5 separate regions of the Homo sapiens genome follow, and all the other regions are reported to be linked to region 3. The links are microRNA targets in miRTarBase. Many come from high-throughput screens and were not tested one by one. Region 3 holds a microRNA gene; each other region holds the end of a gene's coding sequence.
What was found. The annotated mature microRNA hsa-miR-3153 reads GGGGAAAGCGAGUAGGGACAUUU and lies in region 3 at 2,808-2,830, opposite strand. An mRNA with a match to its seed (bases 2 to 7 or 8) in the 3' UTR can be bound and repressed. Matches are read on the target gene's strand: a 7mer-m8 pairs with bases 2 to 8, a 7mer-A1 pairs with bases 2 to 7 and ends in A, and an 8mer does both.

Region 1 (4,528 bases), not on the chromosome of region 3:
GAGAGAAGCGAGAAATATAATGATTTTGGGAACAGCTTCACTGTGAATTCCAACCTTATCTCACATCAGAGACTCCCCGTGGGAGACAGACCCCATAAGTGTGATGAATGTAGCAAGAGCTTTAATCGAACTTCAGACCTTATTCAACATCAGAGAATCCACACTGGGGAAAAGCCCTATGAATGTAATGAGTGTGGGAAGGCCTTCAGCCAGAGCTCACACCTTATTCAGCATCAGAGAATCCACACTGGGGAAAAACCTTATGAATGTAGTGATTGTGGGAAAACCTTCAGCTGTAGCTCTGCCCTCATTCTGCATCGGAGGATCCACACGGGGGAGAAACCCTATGAATGTAATGAGTGTGGGAAGACCTTCAGCTGGAGCTCCACCCTCACCCACCATCAGAGAATCCACACTGGTGAGAAACCCTACGCCTGCAATGAATGTGGGAAGGCCTTCAGCAGGAGCTCAACCCTTATTCACCATCAGAGAATCCACACTGGAGAAAAACCCTATGAATGTAATGAATGTGGGAAAGCCTTCAGCCAGAGCTCACACCTCTATCAGCACCAGAGAATCCACACTGGAGAGAAGCCCTACGAATGTATGGAATGTGGAGGAAAGTTTACCTACAGTTCAGGCCTTATTCAGCATCAAAGAATCCACACCGGGGAGAACCCCTATGAATGTAGTGAGTGTGGGAAAGCCTTCAGGTACAGCTCGGCTCTTGTTCGCCATCAGAGAATTCACACTGGAGAGAAGCCTTTGAATGGGATCGGCATGAGCAAAAGCTCCCTCAGAGTTACGACCGAGTTAAATATCAGAGAGTCCACGTGAAAGAGCCACACACCCATTTTCCTCACTTTCCCTGAGTCTCAAGAGCTCTTGCCTTACCCTATAAATCTCAACAGCTTAGGATGTGTCCCTTTCAACTCAGACTTTTCATTTTAGAGAATGGGGCAGATGGGGCAAATCGTTGAATTTTCCCAGAAATCACACCAGCCTTAGAAAGCGTCAAGGCAAGTGGATGGCGTGCTGGGAATAGAAAGCAGCTCTGGGACCAGTTACCCCATTTAGGAAAGGAGTTTGCACTAAACTGTTTTTCTCACAGCAGAGGAACCTTTCCAAGGTGGGGATGGAAGCACAGTCGGGACAGAATTCGATGGATTCCTTTAGTTGGAGTCCGCGTAGTCAGCACAGACAGCAGTGGAAAGGACGCTCTGGGTCCTGTTATTTGCTAGGGAGGGTAAAGGGAGACTATTTCAAAGCTACTGTTCCTAGTCCAGCTTTAAGTTTCGGTAAGAAACATGCTGTTTTGTTTCATGATTTCGTTAATTATGGAAATTTGGCATTGAGGGATTATTTTATTGAGGGTAGAAGAGATTCCAGAATCATCATCTGTGATGATGGTGTCCTTTAGGGCTCTTGGAGCAGCCAGACCATGTTTCCAAGAGAAACCTGGTGATATTGCCAGCAGACCCCCTGCCATCCCCCCCAGTTGTCCTGGGGCTGAATGGGCAAATCTGTCCAAACAGCTAGTAACCGGCTGTGAGGGAGAGGGTCAGAAGCACTTAGCGTTGGCCTCTGATTGCTGTCCTCTCTTGTCCTCTTCCCACTCCAATGATGAAAATGATTTTCTCTAAATGCCTGGGTAAGGATGCTTTCAAGGAGCTCACTTGGCCTGCTTGCCCTGCCCTCTCACCTCTGACACCCAGCCCCAGGAGCCAGACCACTCCTGCCTCCACCTCTGACTCTTCAGCAGCTGAAGATTAATGCAGAGAAAGAGCAAAGCCCAAAAGGGAGAAAAAAAAAACAAAAAAACAAAAAAACGAAGCCCAGAGAAGGCAGGCTGTGCCTGAGCCTGGTAGCAGAGCTCGTTGCTGGGTGAGGATGGCACTCCCCGAGTTTTCCCAACCGACGGGATGACCTTCCATTGTGTTTTCCCAACCCTGCTCATCCTGTAGCATAAATGAAGTGCACTATTAAACAGAATAGTTTTTCAGAAGAGATTGAGTGTGGTTTTGTGCAATGTTTGGACCATATATTTCAGTTAAAACAAGACATGTTGGCTGGGTGCAGTGGCTCATGCCTGTAATCCCAGCACTCTGGGAGGCCAAGGCAGGCAGATCACCTGAGGTCTGGAGTTCTAGACCAGCCTGACCAACATGGAGAAACCCCGTCTCTACTAAAAACACAAAATTAGCCGGGCATGGTGGCACATGCCTATAATCCTAGCTACTCAGGAGGCTGAGCCAGGAGAACTACTTGAACCCGGGAGGCGCAGGTTGTGGTGAGCTGAGATCGCGCCATTGAACTCCAGCCTGGGCAAGAAAAGCGAAACTCCATCTCAAAAAAAAAAGACAAGACATGTTGGTAACTATAAATGGAATTTGAAAGTTGACTTAATTTTTTTTTTTTTTTTTTTTTTGAGACAGAGTCTAGCACTGTTGCTCAGGCAGGAATGCAGTGGCACCATCTTGGCTCACTGCTGCCTCTGCCTCCCGGGTTCAAGCACTTCCCGTGCCTCAGTCTCTAGAGTAGCTGGGACTACAGGTGTGCACCACCACGCCCCAGCTAATTTTTGTATTTTTAGTAGAGATGGGGTTTCACCATGTTGCCCAGGCTGGTCTTAAACTGAGCTCTAGCAATCTGCCGGCCTCAGCCTCAAAGTGCTGGGATTATAGGCGTGAGCCACCATGCCTGGCCCTAAAATTTCTTTATAGGCTAGGTACAGTGGCTCATGCTTATAATCCCAACACTTAGGGAGGCCAAGGCAGTAGAATCTCTTCAGACCAGCCTAGGCAACGTGGCAAGACCCTATCTCTACAACAAAATTAAAAAAAAAAAATTAGGGCTGAGCGCAGTGGCTCACAGTTGTAATCCTAGCACTTTGGGAGGCCGAGGTGGGCGGATCACAAGGTCAGGAGTTCGAGACCAGCCTGACCAACATGGTGAAATGCTCTCTCTCCTAAAAAAAAAAAAATTATATATATATATCAGCCAGGTGTGGTGGCACGTGCCTGTAATCCCAGCTACTCAGGAGACTGAGGGAGGAGAATCGCTTAAATGCAGGTGGCAGTGGTTGCGGTGAACCAAGATTGCTCCATTGTACTCCAGCCTGGGCAACAGAGTGAGACTCCATCTCAAAAAAAAAATTAGCTGGGTGTGGTGGTGCACACTTGTGGTCCCAGCTACTCGGGAGGCTGAGGTGAGAGGACTGCTTGAGCCTAGGAAGTTGAGCCTGCAGTGAGCCCCTGTGATTGCACCACCACACGATAACAGAGCAAGACAGTCTCAAAAATGAAATGAAATTACTTTATAGATTGCCATTTTTTTTTTTTGAGATGGAGTCTTGCTCTTGCCCAGGCTGGAGTGCAGTGGACCAATCTCGGCTCACTGCAACCTCAGCCTCACTAGTATCTGAGATTACAGGCGCCCACCACCACGCCCAGCTAACTTTTGTATTTTTAATAGACAACGGGATTTCACCATGTTGGCCAGGCTGGTCTTGAACTCCTGACCTCATGATCTGCCTGCCTCGGCCTCCGAAAGTGCTGGGATTACAAGCATGTGCCACTACGCCCAGCCTATGCAAATAAATTTTAAATCTGTGTTCTCATGGCTGTAATCCCAGCACTTTGGGAGGCCAAGGCGGGCGGATCACGAGGTGAGAGTTTGAGACTAGCCTGGCCAACACGGTAAAACTCTGTCTCTACTAAAAATAGAAAAATTAGGCTTGGTGGCACATGCCTGTAATCCCAGCTACTCGGGAGGCTGAGGCAGGAGAATCACTTGAACCCAGGAGGCAGAGGTTGCAGTGAGCTGAGATAATGCTGCTGCACTCCAGCCTGGGTGACAGAGCGAGACTGTCTCGAAGAAGAAGAAAAAAACCTGCCCATGTCCTGATGGCTCTCCCAAGCCTCAGTCGTGGGTCTCCAGTGGACTGCAGAGCAGTTACACCTGGACTTTCTACAGTTTCATAGTATGTTTCAAACCAGATCCCACTTTCCCATTTATTGCCCCCTCTTAAAATTTCTGTAAACCTGTCAGGATCAAAATTTTGTAAGTTTTCTTTGATTATACTCCTCATCCTCCTCCATCTAACCAGCATCAAGCCTGGGCAGGTTCAGTAAAGATGGAGTGGAATGATACTGTTTTCAGAGTTGAGATTGTAGAGGAGATGGGATTTGCAAGTGATGGTAGCAGTAGCTGATACATGGCATATACTCTGTGTCAGCGTTGCCTGGCTCTTTTCCGAGTGGTTTTCATGTATTAATCAGCTGGGTGCAGTGGCTCACGCCTGTAATCTCAGCACTCTGGGAGGGTAAGGCAGGAGAATCGCTTGAACTCAGGAGTTCAAGCCCAGCCTGGGCAACATAGTGAGACCCAGTCTCTACAAAAATAAAAATTAGCTGGGCGTGGTGGCACACATCTGTAGTCCCAGCTACTCAGGAAGCTGAGATGGGAGGACTGCTTGAGCCCAGGAGTTGGAAACTAGCCTAGGCAATATAATGAGACCCCTGTCTCT
Region 2 (4,528 bases), not on the chromosome of region 3:
TGACAATGTATCCTTAACAATATTACAGTTTAGTTTTATGTGCATTATAATGGGTTTGCTTTTTTTTTTTTTTTTTTTTTGGAGACAGGGTCTCCCTCTGTTGGCCAGGCTGGAATGCAGTGGAATGATCTTAGCTCACTGCAACCTCCGTCCCCCTACCCCAGGCTCCAGCGATCCTCCTGTCTCAGCCCCCCGAGTAGCTGGGCCTACAGGCACACGCCACCACACCTGGCTATTTTTTGTATTTTTACTCGAGACGGGGTCTTGCCATGTTGCCCAGGCTGATCTCGAACTCCTGGACTCAAGCAATCCTCCTGCCTTGGCCTTCCAAAGTGCTGGGACTATAGGCGTGAGCCACTGCACCTGGCCTCAATGTTATGTAAATGAAATCATGCTCTGTTTCTGGCTTTTTGGGTCCTGTATCTTTGTAACTTTCATTCATGATACTGTGTTTATCTGCAGCTCATTCATTCTTGTTGCCGTATAGTATTCCACTGCATAATATGCCATCGCTAATTATCCACTGTATTGCTGATGGGCGTTTTGGTTGTCCTGAGTTTGGGGTTGAAAGTATTGCTGCTATGAATGTTTTTGTATGTCTCTGGGTGCAGGGGGACTTGAGTTAGCATTTACGCCTAGCAGTAGAATTCCTGCATCACAGGATATATGTATGTTCAATATTTGAGAATGGCAACCTGTGGGGCATTTAATTTAAGAAACTCAGCAGGGTGCAGTGGCTCACACCTGTAATCCCAGCACTTTGGGAGGCCGAGGCGGGCAGATCGATCACCTGAGGTCAGGAGTTCGAGACCAATCTGACCAACATGGTGAAAGCCCGTCTCTACTAAAAATACAAAAATTAGCTAGGTGTAGTGGTGCACATCTGTAATCCCAGCTACTTGGGAGGCTAAGGCATGAGAATCACTTGAACCCAGGAGGTGGAGTTTGCTGTGAGCCGAGATCACACTATTGCACTCCAGTCTGGGCAACAGAGTGAGCCCCTATCTCAAAAACAAACAAAAAAATCTTAAGGAACTAAAGGGGAGGAAACTTTGATTCTCCTAAACTCCTACTTAAATGTGTCCTCCCTCAGTTTTCTGGTCTTAGTAAGAAATGCCACCACTCAACCATTTATTCCTGATTTCTCCCTTCCCATTACACTCACCCCCAACCAATACACACATGCACACAACCAGTCCTCTGCATTCGTACTCCAGAGTTCATCTCCAACCCACCCATTTCTTTGTTTTGTTTTATTTTATTATGTTTAGTACAGACAGGGTCCCACTATGTTGCCTAGGCTGGTCTCAAACTCCTGAGCTCAAGTGATTCTCCCGCCTCGACCTCCCAAAGTGCTGGGGTTACAGGCGTGATTTCTGTTGGTCACTCTGGTTTAGGCTCCCACAAGTTTCTCCTGGACTGCAGGAGCGCTGCACTCTCCTGACTCTGCGTCCTGCAGCTTCGTTTACACTCAGCAGCCACAGGGATCTTGGTAAGATGCAAGGGTGGTCCCTTCCCTCCTCGATTAACACTTTGCTTCCCATCACCCAGAGAACACAGTCAAACACCTGTTTTGGCTTGCCTGGCTTACTGTGATGTGACGTCTACCCACCTGTTAACCTCATCTCATCCTTCCCTCCCTGAGCTCACTTTCCTCCTGTGTCCATTTGGGCATCCTCCTGGCAGGTCCTTGCTCACCCTTACCCTTCAGGGCTCAGATCAAACGCCACCTCCGCCGAGAAGCCCACATGGACCACCCCATCTAAGGTGGCATAAAAAGTGAGTAAGGTGGCCATTCATTTTCTTACCACCCTTCCCTATTGCCTTCAGAATGCTCAGGACGATCTGAAATTATTTTCTACATTTACTTGATTCCTCTTTTCTCCATACCCGTCGCCTACACGACAGAACATAAACCCCAGGAGGGCCGGGATGATCCCCACAGGGAGTTCCAACGCCTGGCTCAGAATAAGCCTTCAGTACGGGAACACAATGCAGTGTGCAGGAGACAGTCTGAAGGCACCCCCACCCCCAATTCTCTGATGAGCGGGTCCTATTCTGGGGGTCTGGTATAGGGTCCAAGGCAGCATCTAAGAGGCGGGGCCTCTGCTCAGACACGCCTCTAATGAGGCAGTTTGGTTTCCAAGGGGTGTGTCCTATAAGATTGGTGACTTCTAAAGGGCGTGTCTAGTTTCTAGGGGGCGTGTCCGTCTGTTGGAGGTGGATCATGTATTTAAGGGACGGAACTCATTTTGATTGATACTGACTCTAATTGTATTTATTTATGAAACAGAGTCTCGCTCTGTTGCTCAGGCTGGAGTGCAGTGGTGCAATATCGGCTCACTGCAACCTCCACCTCCCAGGTTCAAGAGATCCTCCTGCCTCAGCCTCCCGAGTAGCTGGGATTACAGGCATGTGCCATCACACCCGGCTAATTTTTGTATTTTTAGTAGAAACAGGGTTTCCCCATGTTGGCCAGGCACGGTCTTGAACTCCTGACCTCAGGTTATCTGCCTCGGCCTCCCCAAGTGCTGGGATTACAAGCGTGAGCCACCAAGCCCAGCCTAAACCGACTCTAATTTAAAAGGGCATGTACTATTCAAAGCTTTGAAACTTCTCAGGAGAAAACGAGGACCCGTCTCTATTTAGGGAGTCTGTCCTAAGAGATTCCCCATCCCCCCCGCCTGGAGCCAAGGATCAGAAAATGAGGCATCAGCGACTGACAGGACAAGGTTTATTGGGGGTCCTGGAAACACTGGGGAGAGGGACGAGGGGGCAAGGTCGAGGCTCACAGGGGCACCCCCTAGCCAAATGCCCCCTTCCCCTAGGGATTGGGAGGAAGACAGAGACAGACAAACCAACAGAGATGGAGAGAAAGACCAACGGATGCTACGGAGAGAGGGAAGGAAACCCCAGTGTCCACCACCTCCCACTCAGATGAGTTCACAGGATAAAGAATTGCGTGGACCGGTCCACACGCTACAGGAAAAGAGAGGAGTGTCCGCCCTATTCACTCTAAGGAAGGTGGCAGGCCACAGCCTAGACCAGCCCATTCCATGTGATGGGGGTGTGTGCACATAGATCAGTCCATTCTACTGGGCAAGGGGATTTCAGGCCAGTCTATTCTAGTGTTTGGGGCGGGGAAGATCGTTAGGGTCGATCCATTCCACAGTCGGGGAGGGGGGATTCGAGGGCAGGGGGCATCTACCCTGGTCCCTCTTTCAGCACAGGGAATGAAAAAGGGGAAAGGCAGATTTCGGCTATATCCATTTTCTGGGGTCACCAGTGACTCTGGTGGGTGGCATTTGGAGGGATCTAGGAAAATTCAGGGACATGCTCCCTCCACATTCTCCAGATCAAGGTCGTTAGGAATGATGGCTCTCAGGGAATGGGGCAGTCTTCCCTTGGTGGGGGTGGGTGCCCATCTTTTAGTATTAGGGCTCTCAAGATGAGAGGTACTTGTGGAGACCCATTGCTCACTGCAAAGTCCCCATGTCTTGGGGACTTACGGCTACCCACACTCATTCCAGGGACCTCAGGCTCAGGAGTCTCTCCCTAGATTTGGGCTCCCCTGCCCCAGCTAAGGACCCTGTTTGTTTGTGGTCCCCCAGCTCCGGGGCCTTTGTGGGTTTTTGGTGGCCCCCACCTCTCCAGTCAGGGTCCCCTCATTTCAGGGCCTGCGTCTGGATTTGGATTTGGAGGGCCGGGGCCTCACGCGCAGTCCCGAGGTCCCCTGGTCCAGGCCGAGTCCAGGAGGCTGGGTGGAGGGCAGGGCGCACGCAGCCTGGCAGTCAGTCCATGCCCCGGTGCAGCTTCAGGTGCCTGGAGAGGTTGCTGAGCGTGATGAAGCCCTTGCCGCAGATGTGGCAAGGGAAGGGCCGCTCGGTGCCGTGCAGCAGCCGGTGGCGCTTGAGGTAGCACTCGTGGCGGAAGAACTTGCCGCACTCCAGGCACGGGAACGGCTTCTCGCCAGTGTGCACCAGCACGTGCCGCTCCAGGTCTCGCGGTGAGCGGAACAGCTTCTCGCACTCGGAGCAGCCGAAGATCTTCTTGCCGCGGCCGGAGCCAGACGGGGGTTCCCCGGACGCCGGTTCCCTTTCCCGGGCGGCGGTCGCCGCCTCCTCCCCGCCGCCCTCACCGTGGCTGACCCGCCGGTGCTCCTCCAAGGCGGCCAGCGCCGCGTACAGAGCCCCGCAGTGGCCGCAGCCGTAGGTGGCCGGGCCCGAGTGGGCCTCCAGGTGACTGGCCAGGGCCGCGGCCGACGCAAAGAAGGTCCCGCAGTCGCACTGGTACAGGGTGTCTTCCGAGGGCTCGGCGGCCGCCGCAGGTGCAGGCGCCTCCCCACCGCCCTCGGGGAGCAGCCCCCCGAGCTTGGGCACGCCGCCCCCCGCGGGGCCCAGGAGCAGCCTGCGGTCCGAAGCCAGAGGAGCGTCGCCCGCCTCCGCAGCGGTGCCTTCGCCCGCCGTCTCGGGCCCTGCGCCTGGCCCCGCGGCCCAGGCCTGCGCTGGGGGCGCGCCCGGGCCCTGCA
Region 3 (4,528 bases):
CTTAAGGAACTCTGTTGCTTTAATATTGAGAACTGCAATCTACTACCTTTAATTCTGATATGATGGCCTATGTTCAAATTAGGGAGCTAAGAGTGCACAATCCAAAAGCAGAAAGCATTTTCCATAGGATTAATCTTTTTCTCTTATCACAGAATGCTTACCAGTTGCCTTAATCTTCTTCAGGAAGAGAACCCCAAAATATAAGTTGAACATATGGTTACCAGCCTCCAAATCATAAGCCAACAAGATATAAGAAAATGTGTAACTTATTATGAAAAGTGTTCTCAAAGGGAAAGAACATGCTGAACTCTTTTTCTCCTTCTTGTTGAATGCACATTAATATGATCAGGGAGCCAGAGCAGGAATCTAGGACCATAGAAGCAACTGTAAATTGAGAACGGTAAAGCAACAAGAGGTAAGGACCCAGCCTAGTCCTTGACTGTAAAGCTGTTATCCCTGCCCCAGATTATTAGACTTTTATGTAACGAAAAAATCTAAGTTACAGTTAATTTGGGTTTCCTCTTACTCAACACTAGCTTTGTAGTAGCTACTAGTCCTTGTATGCTCCAGAAGTTGCTTTATACTTCAAGTACTTTGTTCAAAATTAAAAACAGAAAACCACTAACTGTACATACACATTGTGTGCAACCTCACCGTTTTCCAGTTAATTTACTGACCTATATCCAAAACTTACATTGTTCAGTTTCTTAGGCAAGCATGGAATAACCTTCAAAGTTAAACCATCAATATGTATAATTGTAGCCTTACGAGATTCTCAAAAACAAATCTGTATCATTAACAGTATCCCAAAGCATTCTATCAAAGATTTGCCTAACAAATCTCTTTCCCCAAATTGAGTAAGAATTTTTACTCAATTACCATAAAAAGGACTTTATGAAAGTCACAATTCTCAGCTCCATGTTTACCACCTGCAGTAGTAGCAACAGTTTTATACTGAACCATCCATAACCACCAACCCAAATTTTTAACCAGTATAAGATATCTGTCTGTGAGTCAGCTGGCTGGGGATGAATGAGGTGCAATCTGGTCACTTTCTGAGACACAGTAAACTGAATCCCTAACCCGCTATAAGCACCCAGCTGTCATCAACTTAAATTTTAGTCTGTGGTTAAGTACCAATTTATTTGCAGGGCAAAGTGAGCCTCAGAAAAATTCTACTGTGTTGTTAGATTGCCTTAAGGCCACCAAGTCATAGCTTACTACCATAATTTGTAGAGTTTTCATCAATTCCAGTGAACTATATAGTGATTCTTTGTAATTCTTACCAGTTATCACCCACATTCTTGAAATGCTGCTTTAACATCTAACTTCAAATAATCTGTTATCTTATTTCTACGTTCTATCTTGTTGATTATTCTCAAAGAGAAATGTAGTGCTTTTGTACCTTTTCTATCAAACTTACAGAGTACATAAATCTACCAACAAGTTATTTAGATAGAAGTTACCACCCTTCTCCATAAACACGGAAACAGGCTCTCCTCCATCAGGGTTTCTTTATAAAGGAAAAATGTTTAAGTAGCATCAACCCCATATGAGGATTCTACCTGTATTTTGCCACACAGAGATTTCAAACTAACTACATGTAAGGAAAATTATTTCCAAAATCTAACGTTTATTTCAGTTGAAATGCAAAATAGTGCAAGTATTACTAATTTGTAAGGCTGCCCAGAAAAATTAACAGTTTTTCTCTTGTGAAAACAGACTTCCATGATGTGGGGGTGGGGGCACCCACTGTTATGCCCTTAGAAACATTAAGACCCTCACGTAAAAGGACTAGGAAATTAAGTTTGTAATTAAGAAAAATCAAAGAAAGATAGAGATAACTGCACACTGGGAAAAATAAATACTAGCCTTTGAAATTTACATTGCATGCTGCACCATTACATATTAATACAAACCACCCTAGACTCATGCCTTAGTGCTATATTATTACTAGTTTCCCCTTTAAAATTATGTGTGGAAATTACTATCCTGTTTCATAAAGGTTACTGGCTTGGCCAATTAATACCAGCTCTAATTTTTATTGGATTAAAATACATCACTTCAGATATGTAAACTTTCTTCTATACATTACCACACACAAATCATTTGAGTATATTAAAACTAAAAAATCGACCTACTGCCATCAGAAAGAAGTCTGAGAAATAGCTTCATTTATTTTCAATATTATACCCTAAAAGAAACTTGTACCGACCCTTAAATCCTTATCCTAAACACTTGGCACCAGATGTGTTTCAGAATAATTTTCTAGGTTTTAGTAAGATTATTACGGTTTACATTGTGTTCATTATTGGATATCCTCAATAGGGCTCTTGATTAACATCGCATAATTGAACACTGCCAGCATATTACACGAGTATAGTTTATTATTACTATAAGGTTAACACAATCTACTTGAAATTTACCTACAGCCAGAAAAACATGCTATTTTTCTAGCTAGGAATACAAAAGGGTGCAATTACTACTACCCATAGAAATATTCAGTAGTCCTCATGTGAAAACAGACTTCCATGCTACTAGGGAGGGGGAGAAAAAGAGAAACCACCCACTGTTTTGTTCTTTCTTCCTTAAATAGCATTCGGAGAAATCTAACCTACAAAGGCAGCAGACAGAAAACAAGGTCACAATTTGGCCAACGATGGCATGGGCTTTATCTCCCCTAAATCTTGGTAGTATCCCAGAACGCAGCGTTCTAGTCGCTACCTAGTTAAGAAAAAGGGGTTGACTGTTTTCTGAAGCCACGCCCTAAATGAAGTGTCCCGCATACAGTAAGGACAACAAATTTTAAATGTCCCTACTCGCTTTCCCCCAATCTACTTTAATTGGGGGGAAGGGGACAGGGACATTTAAAATTTGTCTAATTTTACTGATCGATTACAGCCACCATGTTCTAGTACGGTGCTTCAGGACTCAAACGCAAAAGTTTCTCAAAGCCCAAAATTTGGCCAGTGTATACTAGCAGAAAATGATGCCCAAAGTCCACTCAAGTTCTTAATCGGCCTTAAAATGAAACTCCTTTAATAATACCCTCAATTGTATGACTGCGGCTAACCTATAATGGCCCAAATCACCATACCCAGTAAACATTTTCGAATCCCCATCAAGCTCATTTTTCGGGGGGTCGCCTCCAAAGCTTATTCTTATACCACTCACTTCAAAAACAAGAAAAAGAAAAGTGTTCCTCTGTGTTAACAGATGAAAATGACCATTTGACCATTCTAAACCACAAACTAGTAAAAGCTGCATCACCCCGTCAGCGACAGGGAAAGTGTGTCACGGTTGCTAAAGGAAAAAGGACGGCACCAGGTGGGTTTTCCTGGACTGGTTCAAAGAACTGGAACTGAGACCAGCTACTGAACGGCCTAATTACTTCGGCCACGGCCGAGAAAAAAGTGACGGGATGGTCACTCCGCGTCGCCGAGGACCCCATGACCCCCAAGTTGCGCCGGTTCCTACCCAGGTACTAAATGCGGCCCGGTGGGCACTCTTCCCTCACCCTCCGCGCACACCGAACAAAGGCCCAACCGGCCCGGCGCGGCCAGGCACCCAACCATGTCCGACTGCGCGGGGCGCCAGGTGGCCGCGACCCCAAACCCCGGCCCTCGCCCTCCGGCCCCGGGCTCCGCCCCCCAGGCCCCGGCCCCCACCCCCGACCCTACTATGCCTGGGTCGCCCCGCCCGCGGGGGCCCCGGCTGAGGGAGCCGGCTCGGGGTCTAAGAAAGGCGCCCACCGGTACTCGTAGTGTTCGTCGAAGTACTTGTCCGAGTAGTAGATCTGCTTGTGGGCCATCCTGCTGGCGCGCTGCAGAAAATGAAACGAGAGCGCGAAGAGCGGGCGCAGCAGACAAAACCACGTCCAGCCCAGGCAACAACTCGCCGGAGACTAACGACCGCAGTCCCAACGATCCGGATTTGAATCCGACAGCCCGCCGCCGATTGGACAGCAGCGCCGACCAATCACCTTCTGCGGAAGTCGGCCGGCTGCCAGCCTATCGTCGCCGCCGCCTCGCAAAGTCCGCTTCCTGGGTCAGCCAATCAGAGATCTGTTGCGAGGTTGCCCGAGGGAAGATAGGTACGTCACGGGGGTGGCAGGGCCCTTAACGGGCAGGGGCGTGGCCAGAGGAGGGCGAAGTCGGGACGTTAAGGGCCGCAGAGCGCGTGCGCAGGAACGTGGAAAGTTCCAGGACACGGAACCGTTGGGACGGAGGACCTGAAGGTGGAGTGAGGTATCACGGGGTTTGGTGATGACGTAGTCGGTCGAGGCCGGAAGCGTGGGCCACAGGGCTTTGAGCGGAAGCTGTCGACCTTGCACGGTGATGGCGCTCCTCGTGATCCCTTGTATCCCCTCAGGCTCGAGCCAGGAGCCTAGGTCCACTTTGAAAAGTAGTAAAAGGCAGAAAGGTTCTGCGGTGTGAGGGGGAGGGCGGCTTCGTGGTCGGCTGGGTCGGGGGAGCGCCGGGCGGCCGCGGCGTGGCTGTGTCCGGGGCTGCCCTGCGCAGCCGGCCGT
Region 4 (4,483 bases), not on the chromosome of region 3:
TCCTCCTGCAGAGAAGGCTCGGGCCCTTAAGCTGTCACCCCAGCAACCTGCACCTGCATATTCTGCCGTGGAGGGATTGTCTCCTTGGGAACAGGCTGGACCATGGGGTTGACCTCCCTCAGCTTGGGTGGCTGCTCCCTTCCCTCTGCAGGCTGTGCAGATGAAGGGGAGCCAACATCCTGTCCCTAGGTGATGCCCCCATCATGAAAGGTAAGCTGGTCTGTGGATTCTGGGACCCCACATAGAAGACCATAGGCTTATGATGACCCTTAGGGTTAGAGAGTTTCCCTGTCATTGTTCAAATATGGAGGTTGTGGCACAGACAGGGCAGGGACTAGCCCAGATCCCCTAGCGCCATGGTCCCCACCCCAACCGCCTCTGATATCCACCCCCACAGGAGTGCGTTCCCCAAAGTACCTCCTGCAGCTCACTTTCTCCTTTTTCCTGGGGTGATGGTGGGGCAACCCCAGACTAACAGAGCAGCAACCCTGGGTCCCAGTTCATTCGCTCCTGCCCAGAGGCAAGGCTTTTACTTTCCACACCTGTCCAATTAGCAGGCTAGTCTGAGCCATCCTTGGTACGTGACCTGCTCTGACATGCCTGGCTCACCCTGGGGCGGTTACTTGGCTGGCTACAGAGGGCGCACCCTCCATGATCTCAGTTTCCCACTGGCTTGCAAGCGGGGTGGAGGCCTGTCCAGGGTCACACAGCTGGCCACAAGCAGGGAGGAGCCAGGACTGTGTCTGCTGATCCTCACCCTGGGACCTCCCTCCATCCCACTTCCTGTGAGGCCACTGCTGGGGCAGACCGTTAGCCAACACCGTCCTCCTGCACCTGGGGTTTATCAGCTTGAGACTCGCTTATCAGTTTCCTCATCAGCCTCCTTCCCCAGCGGTTCCCTCCCGGGCATGATCTCTTGTCAGTTTTCCTGGTTGACACTAGCACCCCTTGGGCCCGCTGGAGAGTGGCCACCTTCCCTGGGACGGGCCCACCTTCAGCTGGGTGACCCTTCCACCCAGCTAATCCATCTCGAGCCCCCCACCTGTTGATGCAGCCCCCACCCAGCTGACCTGCCTTTGAAGCTGGCACTGGGACTTAGGAACCACTTCTGCCAGGTACAGGCTCCATCTGGACCACTCTGCCTCACTGTTGCAGTCAACCCCACCAGCGATTTGTTCACCCCACTCCCACTACGACACCTTTAGGACTTTCGTGTCCTCCGGTGGCCCCGTCTCCTGGGGTCCCCTGTACACACACATCCGTAAGAAGGGACTTGCTCAGTCCCGCGGGACCTTGTTCCTTCCCCCTTTGACGAAAGCCCCCTTTAACCTGTCTCCCTTGGGACCTGTTTACTTCGCCCCCCCCCCGACCTGTGCCCCCCACTTGCTCTGCCCCACCGGGTGTGACCCCTCCCGGCCCCTCACCATGGCGAAGCCCGAGAGCAAGGCAGACGTGCGGCTGGAAGCTTTGAGCTTGGCCCGGCTGAGGTAGAGGCGGCGCCAGCTGAGCGCCCGCAGCGAGTGCTGACTGGCCCCCATGAGGTCCAGGTAGCCGCGGTGCACGAACTCCCGGTACGTGGCCGAGCCTGCAGGGCTCTCGCCCTCAGGGTTCAGCGGGGCCTGCTCGCCCGCGTCCCCCTCGCCGCCCTTCATCCTGGGGGGGGGGCGGCACCAGGCGGTCACTACGGGGCGGAAGCGCCTCGGGGGCCCCAGCCGGGCCGGCCCAAGCCCGGGGGCGGCCCCATTCCCAGACAGGACGAGCAGGATGCAGGCGGCGGGCGCCCAGGAAGAGGCACCCCCAGTGGAGCAAGAAAAGCAGCGTCTGCGGGGAGCCCCAGGAGCCGGAGCGGGACAGCGGAGGCCAAAACAGGAACTGGGACAGAGGCGGAGCCGGGGCTAGCCACATGATGGGGTGGAGCCGGGGACCAAGTCCCCGCAGTCCCGGGCCCGCAGAGATTCCCCGCGACCCCTACCCACCAAGAACGTTATCCAAGCGCCCGGACCCCACCGAGGTGCACGCCAACCCCAGCCCCCTCCAAGGTACAGCTGGACACCCCAGGTGTCCACACTTCCAAATCCCTCCCAAAATGAGTCCAGGAGAGGTGAGCCCACTCATCTGTAGGTAGGGACCCCGCAGATACACACACGAACTCCGCAGCCCCGGCTGGAAGATTTTGAGTTTTATAGCAAACCGTATTGTACAGACCCGGGGCCCAGGGGCCCAGCCCGGCTGGGTCCCCCGCTTGCCCCTCGCCGGGCTGCCTCTTCCCTCCCCCAAGCGGCCCCATTCTCAAGCCTCTCGCTATCCCCAGGCCCCACCCCTCCGGCCTTTGGTCCGCCCAGCCCTCCCCCCACCCGCGCACCTCCCTGTTACCTGAGGTATGTGGATAGATCTCCCCTCCCCTACATGGTAAGCCCCGGCCCCCCGGAGGCCTGCGCGGAGGGGCGGGACCTGGCCCGGCTCATCCCCGGGGTCCCGAAGCCCCACCCCGCGCTCGAGGAAGGGGCAGGGAAGGAGGGCCAGCAGAGTCTGTTACTAGGTTCCCATGGCAACTAAGAGGGGGCCATTTCCAGCCTTAGCACTGGCATCGGGAGGTGTCCGTTGGCTGCTATTTCCATGGCAACCAGGAGTGGCAGTTCCCTGGGCAAATGGGATACAAGTTTCCATGACGATGAAAGAGTGGGAAGAGCCAGGCTGGAGGAGTCCCATGGTCCCCATTCTTGGGCTGGCGCCCCCAGCCATAATGCGGGTCCGGCGGGTGCCGCCGCTCAATACAGTAAAACAAGAACAAGCCTGGGGGTGGCGCAGTCCCAAATGGGCGCCCACCGGCCCGGTCTCAGGTCTCAGTCCAAGCTGGTCCAGTCCCCTCACACCCCGGCTCCCCCAGGTCCGAGATTCCCCCGGTTCAAGTAACACTTCAGTACAGATGAATGTTCAAGTATTGTGCGGAGAGGCGGGCAGGGGGTTGGGGCGCCCCTCGCCACTCCCCTGGGCCGCGAGCTGAAGAGCGGCTGCCCGCGGCCCCCACTCCTTGCAATAGCTGCCGTTTTCAGTGACGTTCAAGGAGTCAGGGTCAGGGGGAAGGAACTGAAGCCTGGGGAGGGGGGAAGCAGAGAGGTGACCCCCAAGGGGGTATTGCTGTCCCCACACCTGCTCTCATCCCCACCTCCAGCTCAGCCCCAGCTTGCCCCTGGTTCCCCTACCTCTGACACCTGGATCCCCAATTGCTCCTCCGGTTTTCCTTTTGTGGCCCCACCCCCACCCCCCACTCCAAGTAACTGGTCTTTGTTCCCTGAACCCTTGGTGGTCTGCTGTCTGCCCCGCCCCCCGCCCCTTCCACCTCCCCCAGCCCCTGGCTCCCATATCCTGTGTGTGTCCTTTCCCCATTCTCCCCCCCAACACTTGCACCATAACCCCCCTCCCACCGTCCCTTCGGCTCAGCACCCTCCAGTACCTCTGACCCACTCCCCCAGGGGATGGACAATGAAGCAGGTAGCAGGGGCAGGACATAGGAAGGAGAAACCCCCAGAGATATCAGTGCAGGGGGGAAAGAAGGGGGTGGCTGGCTTGAGTCCCTGGGTGGGAATCCCAAGTCACTGACACTCAGGAATCCCAGGGTGGTGAGGTGGGAACCTGGCCTCCCAGCAGGGGTGAAATGAAGCCGGAGGTCCAGGCTCCTGTCGAGTCCGGGGGAGGGTGGGGGGCGCCCAACTAGCTGTCCTTGAGAAGCAGCTTCTCCTCAGGGCAGCGGAAGGGGCCAGGGGGCCCGGCAGCTGCCAGCCGGGCACAAGCTTCGGGTGAGAGCTGGCGGCAGGAGCGCAGGTCTAGGCGGCGTAGACGAGGGCAGCGGCGGAACAGCGGGAGGCAGTGGTCCGTTAGGCGGTGGCAACCTGGGGATGGGGCAGTGGAGCTGAGACCAGGCAGGTGAGCAAGGGGTTGGCACTGGCCGTGGGGATCCACAGGCTGGCAGGACGGATGGGGGACCGTGCTTACCAGCAAGATTGAGGTGCACCAGGGTCTCGCGGAGTGGGGACGTGGGGGCCGTGAGGAGGTGAACACTGGGGTCCCCGACGTGGGCGCAGTGGCTCAGGTCCAGGGCGCTCAGCTGGGGTGCGTGACGCAGCAGGAGACGCAGGGAGGCATCTGTCAGCTCCAAACCTGCCAGACGCAGTTCTGCCACCCCCTGCAGCCGACCACGGCTCTCTGTTTGCCCTGGGCAGCCAGATGAGAGGTCAGCACTCCTGGCCACTCCCATCCCTGCGCCCAGGTATCCAGACCATCTGCCCTCCACCTGCTTCCCACATAAGTGAGTGACCTGGTGCACTCTGTGGCTTGCTCTTCTCAAAAACACCCTCATGGCCTGACCTCATCTGTCCACTCCTCACATCACCTCCTCGGAGGCCTTCCATGATTATTGTATTTGAGACTACAATATTCTGCCAGGCGTGGTGGCTCATGCCTGTAATCCTAGCACTTTGGGAAG
Region 5 (4,528 bases), not on the chromosome of region 3:
AATAAGCTGGGATCAGAGGAAGGAGTACTACTGAAACAAGTACATACTAGTACAACAAACTCATTCCCAGACGTCCTTTCCAAAACTTTTTGTGTGTGTGTGTGTGTGTGTGTGTGTGTGTGAGATGGAGTCTCACTCTGTTGCCCAGGCTGGAGTGCAGTGGCGCAATCTTGGCTCATTGCAACCTCTGTCTTCCAGGTTCAAGCGATTCTCCTGCCTCAGCCTCCCAAGTAGCTGAGGCTACAGGTGCCCACAACCACGCCCGCCTACATTTTGTATTTTTATTAGAGATGGGGTTTTGCCATGTTGCCCAGGCTGGTCTCAAACTCCTGGCCTCAGGTGATCCACCCACCTTGACCTCCCAAAGTGCTGGGATTACAGGTGTGAGCCAGTGTGCCTCGCCAAAAATAACTTCTGAATATTTGTTAGCGCAAACTGAGATGGATGCAAACCCAGCAACACACTCATCTCTCATTCTCACCTCAAGGCAAATATGAATGAACCCAAACAATCCATAGTACTGCAGACAAACTCAGTCCCAGATATTCTTCACAAAAGTAAATCCTTACTGCTTATTCCAGCAAAATGACAAGTTCCCCTCTTTTGAGAGAAAACACATGCTTATGCTGAATCTAAATAGGAATATAGAAAAAGGCACTGTGATGACTCTTAATGAGCATTAAGAGTCATCACCACTCCCTAATCTCAAGTACCCAGGGACACAAATGCTGCGGAAGGCCGCAGGGTCCTCTGCCTAGGAAAACCAGAGACCTTTGTTCACTTGTTTATCTGCTGACCTTCCCTCCACTATTGTCCTATGACCCTGCCAAATCCCCCTCTGAGAAACACCCAAGAATGATCAAAAATAAATAAATAAATAAATAAAATAAAATAAAAAAATAAAAAAAAGAAAAAGGCACTGTGTTGATGCAGAGCTCAGTCTCAGCCATGGCTCCCTATTGTGGTTAAGCTGAATCCCTTAGATGAACATTATACAATTTAGGGTTAAAATATGACACCAAGCTCAGCCATCAGGCTGATGGGACATGAGACTAATTAGTCCCAGGTCAGAGAGTAAGACCTATTGTCATGGTAGGGTTCCATGTTAACTTCAAAGTCAGGTGATGATTAGGGTCAGGAGGTGGGTCAGAGTCAAGGTCATTCAGCAGTGAACGTGTTTAGGGTAAAGTCAAAGCCAGTTCAAAGCCAAAGCCATTAAAATTAGGGTAAGTTATGATAAGGACAATGGTTGAAATCAGTCAATTAAAGATTACATTCATCTCAAGCTAAAGCAGGTTAATATCAGGATGATCATCAGTTTTAGGATGAAGGTCAAGCAGGTCAGAAGTCAAGGTCCATTTTAATGTCACATACAAGGTCAAGACCAGTGGAACACAATCAGAGGAATAGATGCCTGATTTGCAGAGGTGAGCATCACACAAGGGTCCACACCCTGTGGCCCAGTCACTGGGCCCCAAGCTGGAGAGAACTCTGCTCCTCTAGAGGACAAACACCTGATGAGGCCCAAGCAAAATATAGGACCAGAGAAGATTTAAGCCACCCAGCCAGGGTGGAATTGCACTGTGGATAATCTCACATTGTGCAGCATCTGAACTTCTAAACTATGCTATTTTTAACACATAAAGTACATGCCAAGAGGAGCCACGAGGAAAGAAACCAGCTGAGGAGCCTGAGAAGTGGAAATGTAGAAAAGTGTAGCAAAGTAGAATTCAAGATCTAACTCAATGAGGCACTTCTGCAAAACCTAAAGTGACTCACGACCTGAACTACTACTATTTTAATAAAATTGCTTCTAAGTGGCAACTATTCCATTCCAGGTGGGGGCTTACATATGTTGGAATACAGGGCCTCTGCTGCCAAATCTTCCTCTCCTGTGACAAATGCAGAATTACACATCTAAGTGTTAGCAACTAGGTCAACTAAAAATAAAACACATAACACATGACTAGGTTACAGTTACACCTACAGGATATGCATGGCTCAGAGTCCCCAGCAGTTTCTGGCTGCTCTCCTAAAGGGACAATGCGTTCTCCATCCATGGTCCTCAACCTCCAACAATGTGATTAAAATACACCCACCCCCGCCCCCGGAAAAAAAAACAAACAAAAAAAAACTAGGGACAGGCACTACAGGACCAGATATGAGAGGGCCTTTCTGCCTTGAAGCACCACACGTGCCCATTTATGGAGGGCTCTCTTGCTTGATAAGGCATTGACTATGATTAGCTCATGTGGTCTCTACTGAGCCAAGGCTCTTGAAGAAGGAAAAAAAGACTCTGGCAAAGGCAGATGATCATTGTTCTTGTTCAATTTTATTGGCATTGCGTTCATCTCTTTACAGAAGAACTCAGCCCACACCCTAGAATGTAGACCTTTGGAAAAAGGAGAAGTGCTCCGTTAAGCAAGCTACAATGCAGGGGCAGATCCTAGGAAGGGAGCAGAACTGCCAGGGTTCCAACCAAAGAAAGAGGTTAATTAATAATGGGCAATATTGGGGAGATGGGTGGGGAAAAGAGGAAAAAGCTCCGCTAACCTAAGAATACCACAACCCTGAAAGGAGCGCCTTCTAGAACAAAGGTAAAATCACTAGGACAGATCTGTTAGGGTTTTCCTTTCACTCTTGTAGTAGAATGCTGATCTAACGGGAGTTTTGAAGTGTGGAGCAGGGGGGAAAAAAAAGAAAGAAAATGAGAATTTTAATTTTTGAAATAACGGCAATTTATCCATTGCACATACCACTGTATTATGCAAATCAACGTTTTGGAAAATTTAGACACAGAAGGGAACTAGACAGTTTTCCCCCTGGAGAGATGAAAAGCTTTTTGGCTCTTAAGTCTTTGATAAAAGGCGTACATAATTCTTGTGTCTACTGTACAGAATACTGCCGCTAGCTGGATTTCCCAATTCTGAGTAACACTCTGCAATCCAAACAGGGTTCAACCCTCCACCTTACAGGCCTGCATTACAGGACTTAAACACATAATCCAAGAATTTCTTACACTAATTTATACATTTTAATTGGTTGCATATATTAACATGTACTATAAGATTCTTTTCTAAGAAGCATTACATAATAAATGGATACTGTAAAAAGATCTGATTAGTTAAAAGTAACAAGCATTAACAGATAGATACATACAAAACTCAGCCTGATCAGACTGGGTGTGAGCCTGTAATGGGGCATGGGGCACCAGCCTTCCCAAGGGGTAGCCTTCAAGGAGGGAGGGGAAAGGGGGGGTAAAAAGACCACAAGACCAATAAAAAAAATCAGATAATTAGACACAGATTAACTGTAAACAGTTCTCTCTCTCTCCAGTGAACAAAAAGAATAAGCTTCCAATGCCAACTCCATATCAGAATGACTTCCACCGCTGGCTTGTCCTGCTGCCATACTCGCGGGCTCATGTGGGTGGGCAGGCAGACCCCAAGGAGCCATCACGGGCAAGGGCTGGAGTTTGATTACGTCAGATCTGTGTGTGTGTGTGTGCGTGTGTGTGTGTGTGTGAGAGATATGTGGGGTGTAACTGTGTTTGATGGGGTTTTCTTTTGGCAGCTGGATGTGAGAGATCAATGTATGTTTTGTTTGGAAGAGGAGAGGGGAATTGTGTTGAAGGCCTACGTGTGTTCTTGGTTTGTGAAGGACTCTGTGCTCAACTCTCACTGCCCCCTCAGCAACTGCAGCTTTCTGCCGAGGCCTTGGCCCGGTCATTCTTGTCCAGTTTGATAGGTTCAGGAAATTCGTTGTACAGCTCCACCTCCGTTTCCTGGACAAGGAAACAGAGAAAGGTTGGTTACTCAGGGAATAGAAACATTTCAGCCCTCATTGCGGGCACTTTCTGCCCAGGAGGGGCTCACTTCTGCTTGGGCAGAGTGGGCGGGGAGCTGTGAAGCAGAGCCTGCCCACACAGTTAAGGGAGCGCTCTGGCAGAAGGTGCCATGCTCAGGGGAGTAGCAAGAGAAAAACAGATTTTGTGACAACTCCAGGTCAATGTGAAGAGAGGAGTCTTGCCAGAAGAAGCAGCAGTCTGCACTGAGCAATCAGGACAGAAGTTCATGGACATTCTCAATCAGATCATGATCTGGGAGCTCTACCACATCCAGTTCAGATGCTTTCTGTATGTTCCCTATAGTTGCCAATGGTTAACAATGGTCTGGATTTCTAGCTTTTCTCAAACATCTGGCAACCCTCAGCCAGTGTGTGCACGAGGTGAAGTGGCTGGAGCTGAGTGTGAGCTGCCCTCTCAGCCTGTAACATTCCTTCTACCTCCCTATCTTCCATCCACTTTTCGGGACCAATGGCCTCTGGTCTCTTTTTTCTTCCAAAGGTTTAGCAGAGTTTTGTCTCCCAAATGCTGCAGGCCTAGAAAGGAAGCTGTGAATGAATTTTATCACCATCTGTGACAAGTGATCAGAGCACATGGACTATGGTCATTTTAGTGGCACTTTGCTAAAGTAACATGCTTCCAATGAGGAGCAGCATTCTACTTTTGGGTGCAGGAAAACAATGT

Region 1: the mRNA of ZNF3 is a reported target of hsa-miR-3153. Seed matches in the 3' UTR shown: 7mer-m8 at 863-869, 7mer-A1 at 983-989, 7mer-A1 at 1,907-1,913 and 7mer-A1 at 1,940-1,946.
Region 2: the mRNA of FIZ1 is a reported target of hsa-miR-3153. Seed matches in the 3' UTR shown: 7mer-m8 at 3,243-3,249.
Region 4: the mRNA of FBXL19 is a reported target of hsa-miR-3153. Seed matches in the 3' UTR shown: 7mer-m8 at 3,546-3,552.
Region 5: miRTarBase lists RAB7A as a target of hsa-miR-3153. Seed matches in the 3' UTR shown: 7mer-m8 at 3,246-3,252.

What each region holds. Positions count from the first base shown.
Region 1 is chr7:100,067,452-100,071,979 of GRCh38, reverse strand. It overlaps ZNF3 (zinc finger protein 3), which reads left to right. Exons shown (of 6, transcript NM_032924.5): 6 at 1-2,007. The coding sequence ends at 837. Among named protein-coding and RNA genes, the nearest start is that of ZNF3, 12 kb to the left of the region's middle.
Region 2 is chr19:55,588,659-55,593,186 of GRCh38, forward strand. It overlaps FIZ1 (FLT3 interacting zinc finger 1), which reads right to left. Exons shown (of 3, transcript NM_032836.3): 3 at 2,718-4,528. The coding sequence ends at 3,792. Among named protein-coding and RNA genes, the nearest start is that of FIZ1, 8.6 kb to the right of the region's middle.
Region 3 is chr9:89,310,576-89,315,103 of GRCh38, reverse strand. MIR3153 (microRNA 3153) reads right to left here and starts at 2,879; the gene lies at 2,798-2,879. It overlaps CKS2 (CDC28 protein kinase regulatory subunit 2), which reads right to left and starts at 3,909. Exons shown (of 3, transcript NM_001827.3): 1 at 3,753-3,909. The coding sequence starts at 3,811. LOC105376136 (a long non-coding RNA gene) reads left to right here and starts at 4,302. Exons shown (of 3, transcript XR_930101.4): 1 at 4,302-4,528. RefSeq lists enhancers at 3,354-3,403, 4,074-4,363 and a silencer at 4,374-4,528.
Region 4 is chr16:30,946,459-30,950,941 of GRCh38, reverse strand. FBXL19 (F-box and leucine rich repeat protein 19) reads right to left here. Exons shown (of 11, transcript NM_001382779.1): 10 at 3,994-4,212; 11 at 2,159-3,890. The coding sequence ends at 3,712. It overlaps ORAI3 (ORAI calcium release-activated calcium modulator 3), which reads right to left and starts at 1,874. Exons shown (of 2, transcript NM_152288.3): 1 at 1,425-1,874. The coding sequence starts at 1,652. RefSeq lists enhancers at 1-518, 519-748, 1,037-1,555 and silencers at 1,479-1,528, 1,569-1,828, 2,199-2,448.
Region 5 is chr3:128,812,583-128,817,110 of GRCh38, reverse strand. RAB7A (RAB7A, member RAS oncogene family) reads right to left here. Exons shown (of 6, transcript NM_004637.6): 6 at 2,313-3,784. The coding sequence ends at 3,689. Among named protein-coding and RNA genes, the nearest start is that of MIR12124, 32 kb to the left of the region's middle. RefSeq lists an enhancer at 3,671-3,965.